Regions from separate parts of the Homo sapiens genome. Here region 2 is linked to region 1. The links come from fine-mapping of genetic effects on gene expression. Tissue or cell type: whole blood. Region 1 holds a variant in brackets; the other region holds the start of a gene. All regions are shown on one strand. Distances are from middle to middle.

Region 1 (8,106 bases):
AATCCTCCTCTCTCATGCCAAAAATAACAAGGGGGCAGAGGTTAGATTCTAGAGGAAAGAACATTGAGTGTGAACTGAAACCTTTCTAGTTACAGATCTACCACTAAGTAGCTGTGTGACCTGGACAAGCCCCTTAATCTCTCTGCACTTCAGTTTCTTCCTTTGTAAAATGGCAGCATTGAGGCTTCCTGGGAACCCTGGCCTTGATATTTTCTAAGCATCTTTGAAGCTCTGAGGTTTTATGGCTCGGTGAATTGTAGAATCTGAGGAGACTGATTTATAAGCAAGTTGGCACGTTTTTTAAGCCCAGTCATTCCTTTGGTGTGTGCAAGGGAGAGCCCCTGCTCAGAGTGTCAGGAGCCATAGCACATTGGGATGTAGACTGAGCATGGCCCACTTCCCAGAGACCCCAAGGCCTGCCTTAGGCCCACCTCTGATGGTGGTGGTTGGTTGGTGGTGGTTAGTTGGTTAAATGAAGGGTGAGATCCTGACCACTCACTAAATGCTGAACTCTTGATAGATTAGGAGGAAGCTCTGCTATCTGTGGGATGAGGCACAGCAGATGATGTGGTTTGGCTGTGTTCCCACCCAAATCTCATCTTGAATTCCCACATGTTGTGGGAGGGACTGGGTGGGAGATAATTGAATCATGAGGGCAGGTCTTTCCCATGCTGTTCTCATGATAGTGAATAAGTCTCATGAGATCTGATGGTTTTAAAAATAGGAGTTTCCCTGCACAAGCCCTCTCTGTGCCTGCTGCCATCCATGTAAGATGTGACTTGCTCCTCCTTGCCTTCCGCCATGATTGTGAGGCTTCCCAAGCCATGTGGAACTGTAAGTCCATTAAAGCTCTTTCTTTTGTAAATTAGCCAGTCTCGGGTATGTCTTTATCAGCAGTGTGAAAACAGACTAATACAGCAGATGTCAGATTGGTTCTTGGAATGGAAGGTAAGCGAACTCTAGTGTTTACTGAAGACAGGGCCTATGTAGGGATTGGCAGGGTAGGGTGGTAGGCCCTATTTAGCAGTACAGAGACTGACCCAAGGCACTTTTCTTGCTGAGTTCAACCTTCTTTTGCAACCCTTTCTTCTGGCAAGTGCTTTCTGCCCAGTGGGGAGGTGAAAGGGTCCCTCACCTTCATGAACCCCTTCTGTGTGAATATACCCTCCAATAAATCCTGGCTCTTCTTTCCATTTCCAATGACTACTTTGAGAAATTAGGATGTCAGTGGTTCATCTTGTCTCATGCAAGCCTGAATTATGTATTCTTTAAGAACAGTGACTATGATCCATCAGACTGTCTTCCACCTGTCATTCAGCATGGCTTTGGCTCTGAACTCTCCACCAACCTTTTTCCTTCCCTGCAACACACACATTCAAAACTAAAATAACCCATTACCACCACCACTAACAACCCCCCCCCCCAACCATCCCATTATAGATCATATCCTCCCAGGAAGTTTTTCTTTGTTCCTAAATTAATTCATACCAATGTGGTGATGGCCACTCAGGCTTGTTACTTGTCTACCTGCCCTACCACGACTCTAAATATGTATTTCCATTTTAACAGGAGATGTTGGATCCAATTTGTCAAAAACTATCTCATTAAAGGAACAAACTTGTTTCAGCATCAGACTTATGATGTGATATTTTTGTCTTAATCCCTCAAAGTACTGAGAGAAGGTTGGGTACTAGTGAAGTCAGAGCTATTAGGGGGCACCCTGGCTAATCAGGCCTTCCTCTGGGCCAGCAGTGCCATCCTATTTATACCTACAGTTTTAGCATTCAGAACAAAATCTTACTACACAAAGAAATTTATAGATTTAATGCAATTCCTATCAAAATACCAACGACATTCTTCATAGAAATAGAAAAAAAATCTTAAAATGTATATGGAACCACAAAAGACCCTAAATAGTCAAAGCAATCTTGAGCAAAAAGAAAGCTGGAGGCATCACACTACCAGACTTTAAAATATCCTACAAAGCTGTAGTAAGCAAAACAGCATGGCGCTGGCATAAAAACAAACACATAGAACACTGGAACAATAGAGAACCCAGAAATTAATCCATGTATCTATAACCAACTGTTTTTTGACAAAGGTGCCAAGAACCCTTATTGATAGTCTCTTCAATAAATGGTTGAGGCAAAACTGGATATTCATATGCAAAAGCATGAAACTAGATTCCTGACTTTCATCCTATACAAAAATCAACTCAAAGTGGATCAAAGACCTAAATGTAAGACCCAACCCTATAAAACTACTAGAAGAAAACATGGGGAAATGCTTCAGGACATGGGTCTGGGAAAAGATTTTATAAGACTTCAAAAGCATAGGCAACAAAAGTAACAATAAACAAATGGGATTATATCAAACTAAAAAGCTTCTACACAGCAAAGGAAATAATCAATAGAGTGAAAAGACAATCAACAGAATGAGAGAAAATATTTGTAAACTATTCATCCAACAAGGGATTATTATCTAGAACATACAAGGAATTCAAACACTTCAATAGCAAAAAAGCAAATAATTCAATTTAAAAAATGGGCAAATGGGCCAGGCATGGTGGCTCACACCTGTAATCCCAGCACTTTGGGAGGCCAAGGCAGGCAGATCATTTGAGGTCAGGAGGGTGGATCACTTGAGGTCAGGAGTTGGAGACCAGCCTGGCCAACATGGTGAAACCCCCTCTCTACTAAAAATATAAAAAATTATCCGGGTGTGGTGGTGGCACATGGGTGTAATCTCAGCTACTCGGGAGGCTGAGGCAGGAGAATGGCTTCAACCTGGGAGGCAGAGGTTGTAGTGAGCTGTGATCGTGCCACTGTACTCCAGCCTGGGTGACAGAGCAAGCCTGTCTCAAAAAAAATAAAAATAAATAAAATAAATAAATAAAAGGGCAAATGATCTGAACAGATATTTCTCAAAAGAAGACATACAAATGGATGGTCAACAAATATATAAAATAATGCTCAATATTACTAATCATCAGGGAAACACAAATCAAAACCATCAAGAAGTATCATCTCACTCTGGTTAGGATGCTATTATCAGAAACACAAAAAAATAACAAATGCTGGTGAGGATGTGGAAAAATGGAACTCTTATTCACTGTTGGTGGGAATGTAAACTAGTACAGCCACTATGGAGAAGAGTTGGAGGTTCCTCAAAAAACTACAAATAGAACTACCATATGATACAGCAATCCCACTACTGGGCATTTATTCAAAGGGAAAGAAATCAGTATATCAAAGAGACATCTGTGCCCCTATGTTTATTGCATCACTATTCACAATAGCCAAAATATGGACTCAACCTAGGTGTTCAATAACAGATGAATGGATAAAGAGAATGTGGTATACGTACACAATAGAACACTATTC[G/A]GCTATTAAAAAAAGAATGAAATCCAGTTATTTGAAGTAATGCGGATAGAATTGGAGCACATTATGTTAAGTGAATTAAGCCAGGAACAGAAAGTTAAATACTGCATGTTCTCACTCCTTTGTGGAAGCTAAGAAAAGTTGACTTCATAAAAGTAAAAAGTAAAACAGAGGATACTAGAGGCTTGAAGGGCAGAGGGAAGTGGGAGTTAGAGAGATGTTTATTAAATGATACAAAATTACAGCTAGATAGAAGGAATAAGTTCTAGAGTTCTATACCAGTGGTCCCCAACATTTTTGGCACCAGGGACTGGTTTCATGGAAGACAATTTTTCCACAGACCAGGGAGTGGGGGATGGTTTCAGGATGATTCAAGCGCATTACATTTATTATGCACTTTATTGCTATTATTATTACATCGTAATATTAATATGTAATGAAATAATCGTACAACTCACCATAATGTGGAATCAGTGGGAGCCCTAAGTTTGTTTTCCTGCAACTAGACAGTCCCATCTGGGGGTGATGGGAGACAGTGACAGATCATCAGGCATTAGATTCTCATAAGGAGCCTGGCATGTGCAGTTCACAATAGGGTTCGCACTCCTGTGAGAATCTAATGCTGCCATTGATCTGACAGGAGGCGGAGGTCAGGCCGTAATGTGAGCAATGGGGAGCAGCTGTAAATACAGATAAAGCTTCACTCAGTAGCCTGTTGCTTACCTCCTGCTGTGTGGCCCGGTTCCTAACAGGCCATAGACCGTTGTTATGCGACCATGGCTCAGGGGCTGGGGACCCCTGTTCTATACCACTGTAGGATGACTGGATGTAACAATATATAGCTTCAAATAGCTAAAACGGGCCAGGCACAGTGGCCCATGCCTGTAATCCCAGGACTTTGGGAGGCCGAGGCAGGCGGATCACTTGAGGTCAGGAGTTCGAGACCAGCCTGGCCAACATGACGAAACCCCATCTCTACTGAAAATACAAAAGTTAGCTGGGTGGGGTGGCATGCACCTGTAATCCCAGCTACTAGGGAGGCTGAGGCAGGAGGATTGCTTGAACCCAGGAGGCAGATATTGCAGTCAGGTGAGAGTGTGCCTTGGCAACAGAGCAAGACTCCGTCTAAAAAAAAAGTAGCTAAAAAATGGATATAGAATGTTCTTAACACAAAGAAATGAAAAATGAGAGAGCAGGACATCTGGTTTCTGAGTAGGAACCTTCACAGTGCCAGTGACAAAAGAGAGAATTAAATATGGGTGATGTTGAGAAAAGCACGAATATTTGTGTTCAGAAGTGTGCCCAGTGCCACACCACGGAAAAGGGAGGCAAGCACAAGACTGAGCCTAACCTCCATGGTCTCTTTGGGTGGAAGACAGGTGCCATTGGATTCTGCTACACAGACACCAGTAAGAACAAAGGCATCACCTGGGGAGAGGACACACTGATAGAGTATTTGGAGAATCCAAAGAATTAGATACCTGGAACAAAAATGATCTTTGGCGGCATTAAGAAGAAGGGAGAAAGGGCGGACTTGATAGCTTATCTCAAAAAAGCTGCTCATGAGAAATAATTGGCCACTGCGTTATTTATTACAAAAGAGAAATGTCTCATGAATTTTTTATATGTATCGTAATTTAATAGATTTCATACACCAGAATTCAAAAAGAAAAAAGAGAAATGGTAAATGAGATGATGGATATGCAAATTACCCTTATCTAATCACTGTATATTATATGTATCAAAACATCTCTATGTACCCCATGAATATATACAATTATTATATGTCAATTTAAAAAAAAGAACAAAATGTCACATTGCATTTGCCAGTCCCCCAGCTTTCATAATGTTATTTTGCTGTTTTGTTTCTGGGATCTTCTCTCTTTTTCCTTAAATCCTTACCCAGCCTCAGATGCTCCTAGCTCTGTACAGGCCTGAAACTGGAACGTGGAATCTTGACACCCTCTGAAAACTCCTCTGGATTTACCCGCCCTGTGCCCCTCCACACACCATTCCTATTCCCCTTACAGAGGCTCCTGCTCCTCACCCTCAAGCCCCAGGACATCATGGCCCAAGCTTAAAACAGGACCAGAGAAAGGGACCAGAATCCATCAAGTAAAACCAAATTCAGGTTAATAGCAGGAAACCAGCTGAAAATCTCAGGAGCTTCTGGATGTATATTACAAGGGGACAACTTTCTATTCCAGGAGTTTGCCAGCTCTGAATTTGGTCCCAGGCCAGTACTCTTTGCCACTCACCTATTTTATTTTTAAATTATTATTATTATTATTATTATTTATTATACTTTAAGTTCTGGATACATGTGCAGAACGTGCAGGTTTGTTACATAGGTGTACATGTGCCATGGTGGTTTGCTGCACCCATCAACCCATCATTTAGGTTTTAAGCCCCGCATGCATTAGGTATTTGTCCTAATGCTATCCCTCCCCCTGTCCCCCACCCACTGGCAGGCCCTGGTGTGTGATGTTCCCCTCCCTGTGTCCATGTGTTCTCATTGCCATCCTATTCTCTTACACAAGGTTGAGAATGTCTGTGAACAGGAACATTCCTCAATTCTCCCATCTTGGAAGTCAGCTTGATTCTTTGAATGTAAGGGTTAGAAGGGTCAGACTGGCCAGGTGCAGTGGCTCACACCTGTAATCCCAGCACTTTGGGAGGCCAAGGCGAGTGAATCACCTGAGGTCGGGAGTTCAAGACCAACCTGACCAACATGGAGAAACCCTCTTTCTACTAAAAATACAAAATTAGCCAGGCGTGGTGGCTAATTAATTCCAGTAATCCCAGCTACTTGGGAGGCTGAGGCAGGAGAATCTCTTGAACCCTGGAGGCACAGATTGCAGTGAGCTGAGATTGTGCCATTGCACTCCAGCCTGGGTCAACAAGAGTGAAATTCTGTCTCAGGAAAAAAAAAAAAAAAAAAAAAAGAGAAGGGTCAGACCCAGCCCTGGGACATCCTCAAATGTTGAGATGCTCTGGATTTTGATGGCCTGTACTGGCATTAACACACAACCATAGGCAAACTATGAAACAATTTGCACTGGTGTATAAAATATGGTGGCCAAGCTGAAGTAATAACATGAATAAACAAATAATATAAGGCAATATCTCTTAAGCTTGGAATTCTAAAAGCAATGGAGAGTCCCAAGGGAAAACAATACCACTCTTAACTATCTTATTCCTACTCCCACAGCCTGGGGCTGAGTCTTGGTGCTGGAGAGAAAGGAAAGAGCTGGCTTTCTTCCAGTCCCTCATTCATCTTGCCTGGCTCTGCCTGGTCCACACTTAAACTTGTTTGTTAGAAATATGGTCACTTTAGTCATCTTCTACCCAGTCATCAACTCACCCTTTCTGCTCCCTGATATGGATTTGGTAAAAGCCATGGCAAGTGCTCAGGAGAGGGAATCACCAGAAACCTTTGTTAGTCCAGAGTTTAGAGATTAAGGGTAAGCCTCATAGGGGTTGGGAGTCTTATGGGGACTACATAAGAGATTACTAACGAAGGAGGAAAGAGGCATATGAGGGCTGATGCTGAGGGAATCTGCTAACAGCAATCCAAGGTCATCCCTGCAGGTAGGTCTGTGGCTGAGTAGATTCCTGTAGAATAGATTCAGGTAGACTATGTTCAGCAACACTGGAGCAGTCAAGCAGGCTTTGTTCCTAACTTCACTTCTCTTATCAAGGAGCTTTATCATCATCTCTATGCTTCTAAAACCTCACTGCTGTTTCCCAGCTTATTACCCCAGAAACAGACTTGGGCCAGCATGGATGACAGAAAATGTTATTTGCTCAGCTCTCTGATTCCTATACTTGCCAGCAGCAATCACGACCGCCAGCACCAAAAGGACAGAGGGAGTCTGGGTCAGCCCTGCTTTATGCAAAACAAGGTATGGAAATCCAGATATTTTTCCCAAAATGATACATTTGGGAGGAGCATATGTATTTATTTGCTTATTTCATTTAAATTTTTCTTTCCAAAAACATCTCTGAAGGGTTTCTTTAGCTTTTACATGGTTCTATTTTTTTAAGTTATCTTTGGTATAAAATTATATCATCACTTTACCAAAAAATTTGGGAAAGAATTGAAAAAAGAAAATAATCACGCATGACTTCATTGTCAATACATCTGTCACTTGCTAGCATTTGGAATATTTCTTTCCTATCTTTTCTCCTATACACATTTTTTCTTATAAACATTAAAGATTCACTTTGTTTTAAAAAAAATTTTAAGTAGTTCATGCACATAATAAAAAGTATAAAAAGTGACAGTCCCTCTCCTCCACCCTTATCCCCAGTGACCACTTTAAGTCTTGTACATCTTTCCAGAAAATAACTTTTCTTTTCTTTCTTTCTTTCTTTTTTTTTTTTCTGAGATGAGGCCTCGCTCTATTGCCAGCCTGGAATGAAGTGGTGTGATCTCAGCTCACTGCAGCCTCCACCTCCTGGGTTCAAACTATTCTCCTGCCTCAGCCGCCCTAGTAGCTAGGATCACAGGCATCTGCCACCACGCCTAGCTAATTTTTGTATTTTTAGTAGAGATAGGGTTTTGCCATGTTGGCCAGGCTGGTCCTGAACTCCTAACCTCAGGTGATCTGCCTGCCTCAGCCTCCCAAAGTGTTGGGATTACAGGCGTGAGCCACCGTGCCCGGCCAAATAGCTTTGCATATAAGGTGTCTTGCTGGGGATGGGGGTTGGCATGTACTGTGAG
Region 2 (8,106 bases), 26 kb before region 1:
CTGGCTTGATGCCTGGTTACTTCCTCATGGTTTTTGAGCCAGACGAAAAGAAATGGTGCTGAGAGTGGCCTGGGTGATTCTGAGTGCCCAAGGACTCCAATACAGTAGTCCTGGATGGGAGAGTGGATTTCTTGAAGAAGATGCCCCACTGGTGGCTTGGCTCAGCCTAGGGAAGACCTGGACAAGGGTGCATATATGTGGCAGTGGAAGTGAGAAAATCCAGATGCTGTAGGCAGTAAGTACGTGTGGCTCTGAGGAGGGGATGGCTGCCATGTTTCTGACCTGGCTTAAGTGGAGGGTTGCCAGGCCGCCAGACCCACCACAGAGGAGAACACAGTTGGGTACCTCATCACCAAGAGTGCTCAAGGACCCCAGGTTGAGCTGCATCTTGACAGGCCAGTGTCCATGAGGAAGGGAGGATGGGCATCAAGCCTCTACCCTGTGGGGTTTGCTCTCTCACTCACCATCCAATAAACATTCAGTAAGCACCCAATTTATGCCAAACACAGCTGGGCACTGGGGATCCAGAAGTGAATAGGGCCGTGCCCACCCTCGAGAGCCCGAAGTCTAGAGGGGGAGACGGAGAAGTAAACACAATTGCAGCACAGGTAAGGGATGTGACAATAGAAGAATACAGAAGGTGCCATGGGAGCCCTGAGGCATGGCTGCTAGGGAAGCCTGGGCTGAGACACAGGGGCTGGAGGTCTGAGCTTCTGGGCTCTGCCTGACTCAAAAGCCAGCCAACTGCTGCCCTGAGTGGGAAAAGGACCAGCGAGGAAGGAGGTGGGCGGCACTGAATATTCCTGACAACACATGGCCAAGCTGAGAAAGCAGGCACCACCCCAATATCTGCACGGAGCTGTCCTGCAGAGGGAGGTGAGGAGAGGCAGCTGCTCTGTAGCCACCCTAACTGATTTAAATGCAACATCTAGGATCTTAGAGCAGCTACTCCAGGCCATGGAATCCCCACAGTCAGTAACCCAGCAACATGATTCTGGGAAGAAAATCAGAACTCCCAGGTCAAAGGGGAAGTGAGATTTGAAACATGAACAGTAGGAACTGGTCCCAGTCCCCCAAAATTCATTAGTTTTCTGAGTCAGACTCCAAATGCCCCAAGAGTCAGGGCTTCTAGAGCAACAGCAGACGTAGCCACCATCACCACCAGCACCACTATTCAGAGCCCAGAGGATGCCGGACACCTTCCTAGTGGGTTCCAGGCACAGACACAATAACCACTGCCATGCGGCAGCTCCAGAAGCCGGCCAGAGCATGCACTCTGCCTGCAAAGGGTGTGGGCTGACCATCATCTCATCCATAGGTGCTTCCTGGGCAGAAGAGCAGAATTTGATTAGGATGGTGGAAGTCTACAAAAAAGAAAGCATGGGAACCAGTCCCTGAAGAGGAGCTAGGAAGAAAGATGGCCCCCTGATCTGGGGAGGCAGCATTTTCTCTCCAGCTGCTCTTGTATGAATATACCTGTGCAGCACTGGGTTTGGGGGAGAAGGGACATTCAATAACACCTGAAAAGTACTGTCCCCTAGGAAGGGCAATCAGGACACAGGGAGATTCATCCTTAGATCCAGCTCTAGGTCTTGAAGAAAGAAAACAGTCCCCAAAATGATTCATTCATCCTTAAATAGTTCACTGAGGCAGAAATTGTTTCTCCTTTAGAGGAGAAAGATTAAGGTCAGAGAGACAGATACATTGGCTTAGGGTCACACAGTAAGTTGGTGCCAAAAAGATGCTGAGCCTCTTGTCTTTCAGTGTGCTATTTCTAGAGCCTCTGATTTTTTATGAGTCTACTGTAGGGCCAAGAAGGGGCTCTATTCTAATTTGGGGTGGTGCTAGCTTGGCCACCCACGTCTTCTGACCTTGAATGAAGCATTTTTACCAAGGTAAATGGGTCTGTGGAGCCAAACTCTCTCCTGGCTGAGATCTCTCAAAGTCGTTTGTCCGATAAAAGGGGGGTAGGGTGGAGGTAGGGGGTAGGGAAGCTCGAGAAAAAAAAAATGACCAGGAACACAAGTGTAACAGATGCACCCAGCTGTTGTCACTGGCGAGCACAGACAAGGGTGAGGTACCAATGGCTCCAAGGGAGACAGTCTCGGCAGATAAAGGAAGTCAGAGTGACGACCTAAAGTCCCTGAAATGCTAGTGCTGGCTCCGAGGATGTCACGTCACTGGCCTGGCACACTCAGTGAGCACAGAGACTTCACTGATACTTGCCCCTAAGTGGGGAGTCTCTTAGTACATCCCCCAGCACTGGTAGAGTGGTAAGGGATTTTCTTGTGTTTTTCCCTAACCTCCAGCTGAAGCAGAACCTAGACTATGGGAACTTGGGTTGACTGGTTAACTACTAATACTGCCCATACCCCAGCTATAGCAGCAGCCATCTGTGCTGAGGACTTCCCCCAGCGGCACTGTGGTTCAGTAGAAAGGTCACCAGACCAAGCCTGCTAACCAGCTGTTGGACCTTGGACAAAACATTTAACATCTCTGTGCTTTAGTTTTCTACATTTTATAGACATAAACACAGATGCTGGACAAGATGTCTTCTAAAATTTTTTTCCAGTTTTACAACTGAGCATTTGATAGGAGCACAAGTTTCATTTTCCCCAGGAGTAGGATGGCTGAGTGCGCTGTCATCACCACCCTATGGGATTTCTCTCATTTGTCCCAACAGGCCAGCACTTATGGGCTTTGTGTCTGCACCTCACCCCACGGGCCCTGTGAAACCTTTCCAGCAAATGGCTTAGATGTCTGTTCTGCTCCCTCCCCTAGGAAACATATTTTAGACTCAATTCTTCCCTCCTGCAAGTCTGAACTTTAGGTCTCCAGCTGAAGTGGGCAAGGATGGTGGGCTCCAGAAGCAGCAGCTCTGGTGTGGTAGGAGCCAGAAGAGGAGGTGAATGGGGGAAGGATGTCCCTATGTTCTCACACCCCAGGACCTCCAGGACTCTCTAGCCAGGAAACAGGGTCGAGCTGGCATTGCATGATCTGGTTCAGCTCAATTCTCAGCTTCAGCAGTCTTTCTGCCACCCCTGATCACACTGGGTTGGATTTGTGGGGGAGGGAGTCAAGGCCTGCAGACATGAACATACATGCTTAGGTCGGTCAAGTCAACAATGAACGGCAGAGTGGGATGGGAATCCAGGTGTCCGGAGTCCCAGCCCAATACTTTTTCCACCCCAAGCAGAAGATTCTGAAAGGACCCCTGGCCCTCCGGCCCAACACGGGGTCCTGTTTAAAGACACTGGTGATTGCCAGGCTCCAGGGGTGAAGTCTGGTCCTGAGAAGGGTGGCAGGGAGGGGACAAAGTTTGGGGCAGTGCTGGGATGGGAAAGACATCTGCACCTGGAGGCCATTCTTCCTAGACTTTGGGGGGGTGGAGGTGGGGGTAGATGAGGCCTGCAAAAGGAAGAGATGATGCCAGTAACCCATCCTCTCTGAGGTGGTGGAGAGAGAGGTTTGGGTTTTTCCTTCCTCTTCTTTCTTTGCCAGCCGGGCCTCCAGGCCCCCAGGCCTGAAAGTCAGCCGCCACCCCCGACCCCCATCATGAATGTGTCAGTGGGTCCGCCTTGGGCCAACAGGCTCCCTCAAACCCACATTTCTAGCCTAACACAGACCCTCCTCCGACGCCCCGAGAATACCCATCAGTCTTTACTGATTCCCTGGCATACCCTCCTCCCTACAACGCCCCCTGCAGACGCGGCGTCCCCGGGGTGTCCCTCCCCAGGATAAATTCCCCCAAAGTGCCGTCAGCCCAGAAAACTCGGCAGTGCGGCTCCCGCGCGTGGGGCACCCCGGGCCACCCTTCCACCCCGCGGGGGGACCCCGCCGCCCAGGTGCCCTCGACCCCGAGACTCACCCAGAAGAGCATGTTGAAGAAGAAGAGCAGGTATTTCACCAGCGGGCTGACGAAGGAGAACTCCTCCCCGGAGGCGGCCGGCGCCCGGGGTCTCCGCGCCATGGCCCCGCCGCCGCCACCGCCCCCGGGGGCCTATTTCCCAGCGGCTGCCGGCCGGCCTGTGTGCCCCGCGCCCGGGGGCATGAGCCGAGCCGCGCCGCGCAGGAGCCCGGCCGGCGGGGGAGCCTGCGCTGCGGCGGGAGGCGCCCGAGCCGGGGGGCCGGGAGCGGCGCGGGCCGGGGAACCGCGCCTGGAGCTGCTGGAGCCGCGGTGGGCAGCGCGAGCGGACGAGACTCACCCGCGGCCGCAGGACCAGCCCGGCCAGCCAGGCGCCCAGGAAACCCGGCCCGCCCCCGGCCGCTCATTGGCGCGACGGCTGGAGCCCGACTTCCCATTGGCTCGTGGCTGATGTCACTAAGTATCCAGCCATCCCTCTCCACCGAGAGTCGGGGGAGACACCTGTTCTGTGAGGGATAACTTGTTAAAGGGTCAGCGGTTCTGCCTCTCCCCTACCCCTAAGGGAAAGCATCCAGGCTGCAGCTGCTCAAAGGAACAAGAGTGAGGAGAAGGAATGCACAGTGCATCCCACACCCACGTCCTCCGCCCAGCTGCTGTGCACATATGCAAACACACATACATTAAAATCAACAAGTACGCACACCGTGTGTTGAGCAATGCGCCGAAAGCTCTGGGAACGCGGGAGAACAGAAACAATCCCTGGGGGATGACAATAAAATCAGGGAGACAAAACTAACCTACACATAACAATTAGACCAAGGGTAGATGCAATCTTGTTTAGTAACTATACATTTTAAATGCTTATTTCAGAAGCTCTACAACCCAACAGTGGAAATTTGGAAACATCACCGCCAATCCCGCCATCCTAATTCATTGCTGTCTCAATTCCCGCCCCCGCAGCCCCTCTTCCCTTGGTCTACTTGCAGACACCGTTTTTAACATGCTGATCCGGCACACACAGGTTGAGTGCAGCGTAGCTGGCGAATATATTATGCTGGCTACCCTAACTAATACAAGTTGAACCTCGGGGAGGGAATCTGATTCCACCATAATTAGCTGCGTGAAAGCTGCAAGCTACTTAATCTCTCGGAGCCTCAGTTTGTTTAATGTTAAATGGGAGAGTCCTGACCTAGATGGCGATTTGAGGATTAAATGAGATAATGCATGTAGCTCACTTAGCACATGGCTGGCACATGGAAGGCTCATCAAAGGCATTACAGTATTTCGTTTTAGCAGAATTAAGAATCCAGTGTGGAAATATGATAACCGCACAAATAATTATAATACGTTTGGTAGAAGGTTAGTGAAGATAGCGTGGCAAGTGAAATTAGGGGAGGATGGGATTTAGAATAGTAGAGACGGAGGGGAAACATAATCCAGGTGGATTAAAAAAAAAGGGGGTGAACCAAAGCCTGGAGGTGCAAAAGCACGCCATGTGTTTCGTGCAAAATAAGCAGACTGCTGTGGCTGGAGCACAGGGTATGCTTGGAATAGCAGTGGGACATAATGCTGACCGATGCCGTTACATGTGGAATTGTGTTAAAACTGCGGAAGTAATTGAATATCAGATTGGGGAGTTAGTGCTTAATTGACTTGGAAATAAGAGTTTTGGAGAAAAGGATGATGGAAAACCCATGGTTTTCAGTTGGAGTGGGAAAGAGGCTGGAGAGAGAAAGATTTGTTAGAAGCATGCTGCTCATCATCCAGATAATCAGAAATCAGGAACTGATTTAGGAGTAATAGACAGAATAATAGATGGTTAGGAGAGGATAGAAGGGAAGGCATTGGAAAGATAGAATCTCTAGGGCTAGGCTGTGGTGACAAGCAGGCATAACAGGAGCACCAAGAGTGGAGGTTAAAGAAGGCAGTCACAGCCAGGTTACTGGGAGATTACTGGCCCTTAACAGGTTAAGTGACACTGGAGATCAGTTTTAGTATAAAGCAGGTAGGGTGGGCAGAAGTCATTTTCCAAGAGGTTAATGAGTGAATAGGTAGGTGCCATTTTCAGATGTTAGTGCGGGGAGGATAGAGAAATAGACCAAGATGCTGAATGTTTCTATTAGATGATCTTCCAGAAATCAGTTTTATTTTTTTGAAACGGAGTCTCACTCTGTCGCCCAGGCTGGAGTGCAGTGGCCTGATCTCAGCTCACTGCAACCTCCGCCTCCCTGGTTCAAGCGATTCTCCTGCCTCAGTCTCCCAAGTAGCTGGGATTACAGGCGCCCGCCACCATGCCTGGCTAGTTTTTGTATTTTTAGTAGAGATGGGGTCTCACCATGCTGGCCAGGATGGTCTGAACTCCTGACCTTAGGTGATCCACCTGCATGGGCCTCCCAAAGTGCTGGGATTACAGGCATGAGCCACTGTGCCCAGCCAAGAGATCATTTTTAATTGAGACGGGAAGAAGAAGGAATATCACAGTGTCAAGGAAGGAATGGGTGGTGAAATGGAAGCTGTGAACGAAACTGTGGACATCTCTGTCTGGCTTTGAAGGTTATGGGAGCCTTAAGGGACTTCAGAGTGAAGGGAAAGTTCTCTGTTAGCATATAAGAGACCTAACATGTTCGTAGGAAACAAAACAAAACAAAACAAAACAAAACAGTCAAGAGGGATTAAGGTGGATAATGGCTGGAATGAGGTTTTGGAATTAACAGGTAGAGATGGGATTAGCCTTCAAAGTGATGACCACAATGTCCCTCATGTGGAAGTCACGGACGGCATCACAAAGTAGGAAGCCATGCAGCTATAGAACAAAGAATTAGGAAACTCTCTCTGTACTGAGTTGGAACGATCTCCAAGTTAACTCATTACGTTTAAAAAGCAAAATGAGGCCGGGGTGGCTCATGCCTGTAATCCCAGCACTTTGGGAGGCCGAGGCAGCCAGATCACGAGGTCAGGAGATCAAGACCATCCTGGCTAACACGGTGAAACCCTGTCTCTACTAAAAATACAAAAAAATTAGCCGGGTGTGGTGGCGGGCACCTGTAGTCCCAGCTACTCGGGAGGCTGAGGAAGGAGAATGGCATGAACCTGGGAGGCGAAGGTTGCAGTGAGCCGAGATCGCACCACTGCACTCCAGCCTGGGCGGCAGAGCAAGACTCCGTCTCAAAAAAAAAAAAAAAAAAAAAGCAACAAGTGGGACAGTGGATACAATATATCACATTCTGGTTAAAGAGAAAGAGAGAAAACAAAAATAAGGAATAACATTTATATTTGCTTCCCTCTGCCTAAATAAACTCTGGAAGGAAACGTAAGACATTAAGAAAGGAGGTTACATACTGGGATGGTGATGAGAACTGAAAAGAGAGGAGAGAGACTTTTCACTGTGTGCCATTTTATTCTTTGTTTTTTTTTTGTTTTTTTTTCTTTGCAGCATAAAGTGTATTAATGATTCAAAATGAAAAAATTACACAAATTGAAAAATCAAAAAGAATTTAAAAATTGGAAAAATGTATCTTTACTATAGAATGCTACGCAGCCATTTAAAATAACATAGAAAACATATGTACTGACTTGCAAAAAGGTCCATGACATATGAGGTGCAAAAATCAGGTTGTAGAATAAAGTATACAGAGTATCTGACAATCAGTGAATAGTTTCAACTTATTTCAAGTCCTTGGAAAAGGTATTCAGTTCTTTGGAATACATAATGTGGCCATTTAAAATGGAATTCAATGGAAAAGGTATTTCAGTTATGTGGAATATATAATGTGGCCATTTAAAATGGAATTCAAAGCAGAAGTGGTGGCTCATGCCTGTAATCCCAGCACTTTGGGAGGCCAAGGTGGGCAGCTGACTTGAGGCCAGGAGTTTGAGACCAGCCTGGCCAACATGGCAAAACTCTATCCCTACTAAAAATACAAAACTTCGCTGGGCGTGGTGGTGTGCACCTGTAATCTCAACTACTTGGGAGGCCGAAGCACAAGAACTGCTTGAACCCAGGAGGTGGAGGTTGCAGTGAGCCAAGATTGCACCACTGCACTCCAGCCAGGGTGACAGAAATTCTGTCTCCAAAAACACACACAAAAAAAACAAAAGAAAACAAACAAACAAAAAATGGAACCCAAAAAACTTATGTAATAGTATGTAAGATTTTAACAATATAAACATATTCACAGTAAGAAATATGGGCCAATTTCAACAGAGATGAAAAAATATAAAAGTAAAATCAGCTGTGTTGT

The links. PIP is the estimated chance that this variant, and not a neighbour inherited with it, causes the effect.
Region 2: TSPAN33 starts here. The variant in region 1 is fine-mapped to the expression of TSPAN33 in whole blood (INTERVAL, PIP 0.98).

What each region holds. Positions count from the first base shown.
Region 1 is chr7:129,114,357-129,122,462 of GRCh38, reverse strand. It overlaps the pseudogene CYCSP20. Among named protein-coding and RNA genes, the nearest start is that of TSPAN33, 26 kb to the left of the region's middle. RefSeq lists an enhancer at 59-228. The variant G/A (reference allele first, on the strand shown) is at 3,384.
Region 2 is chr7:129,140,845-129,148,950 of GRCh38, reverse strand. It overlaps TSPAN33 (tetraspanin 33), which reads right to left and starts at 4,244. Exons shown (of 8, transcript NM_178562.5): 1 at 3,869-4,244. The coding sequence starts at 3,970. RefSeq lists an enhancer at 1,210-1,259 and a silencer at 4,122-4,331.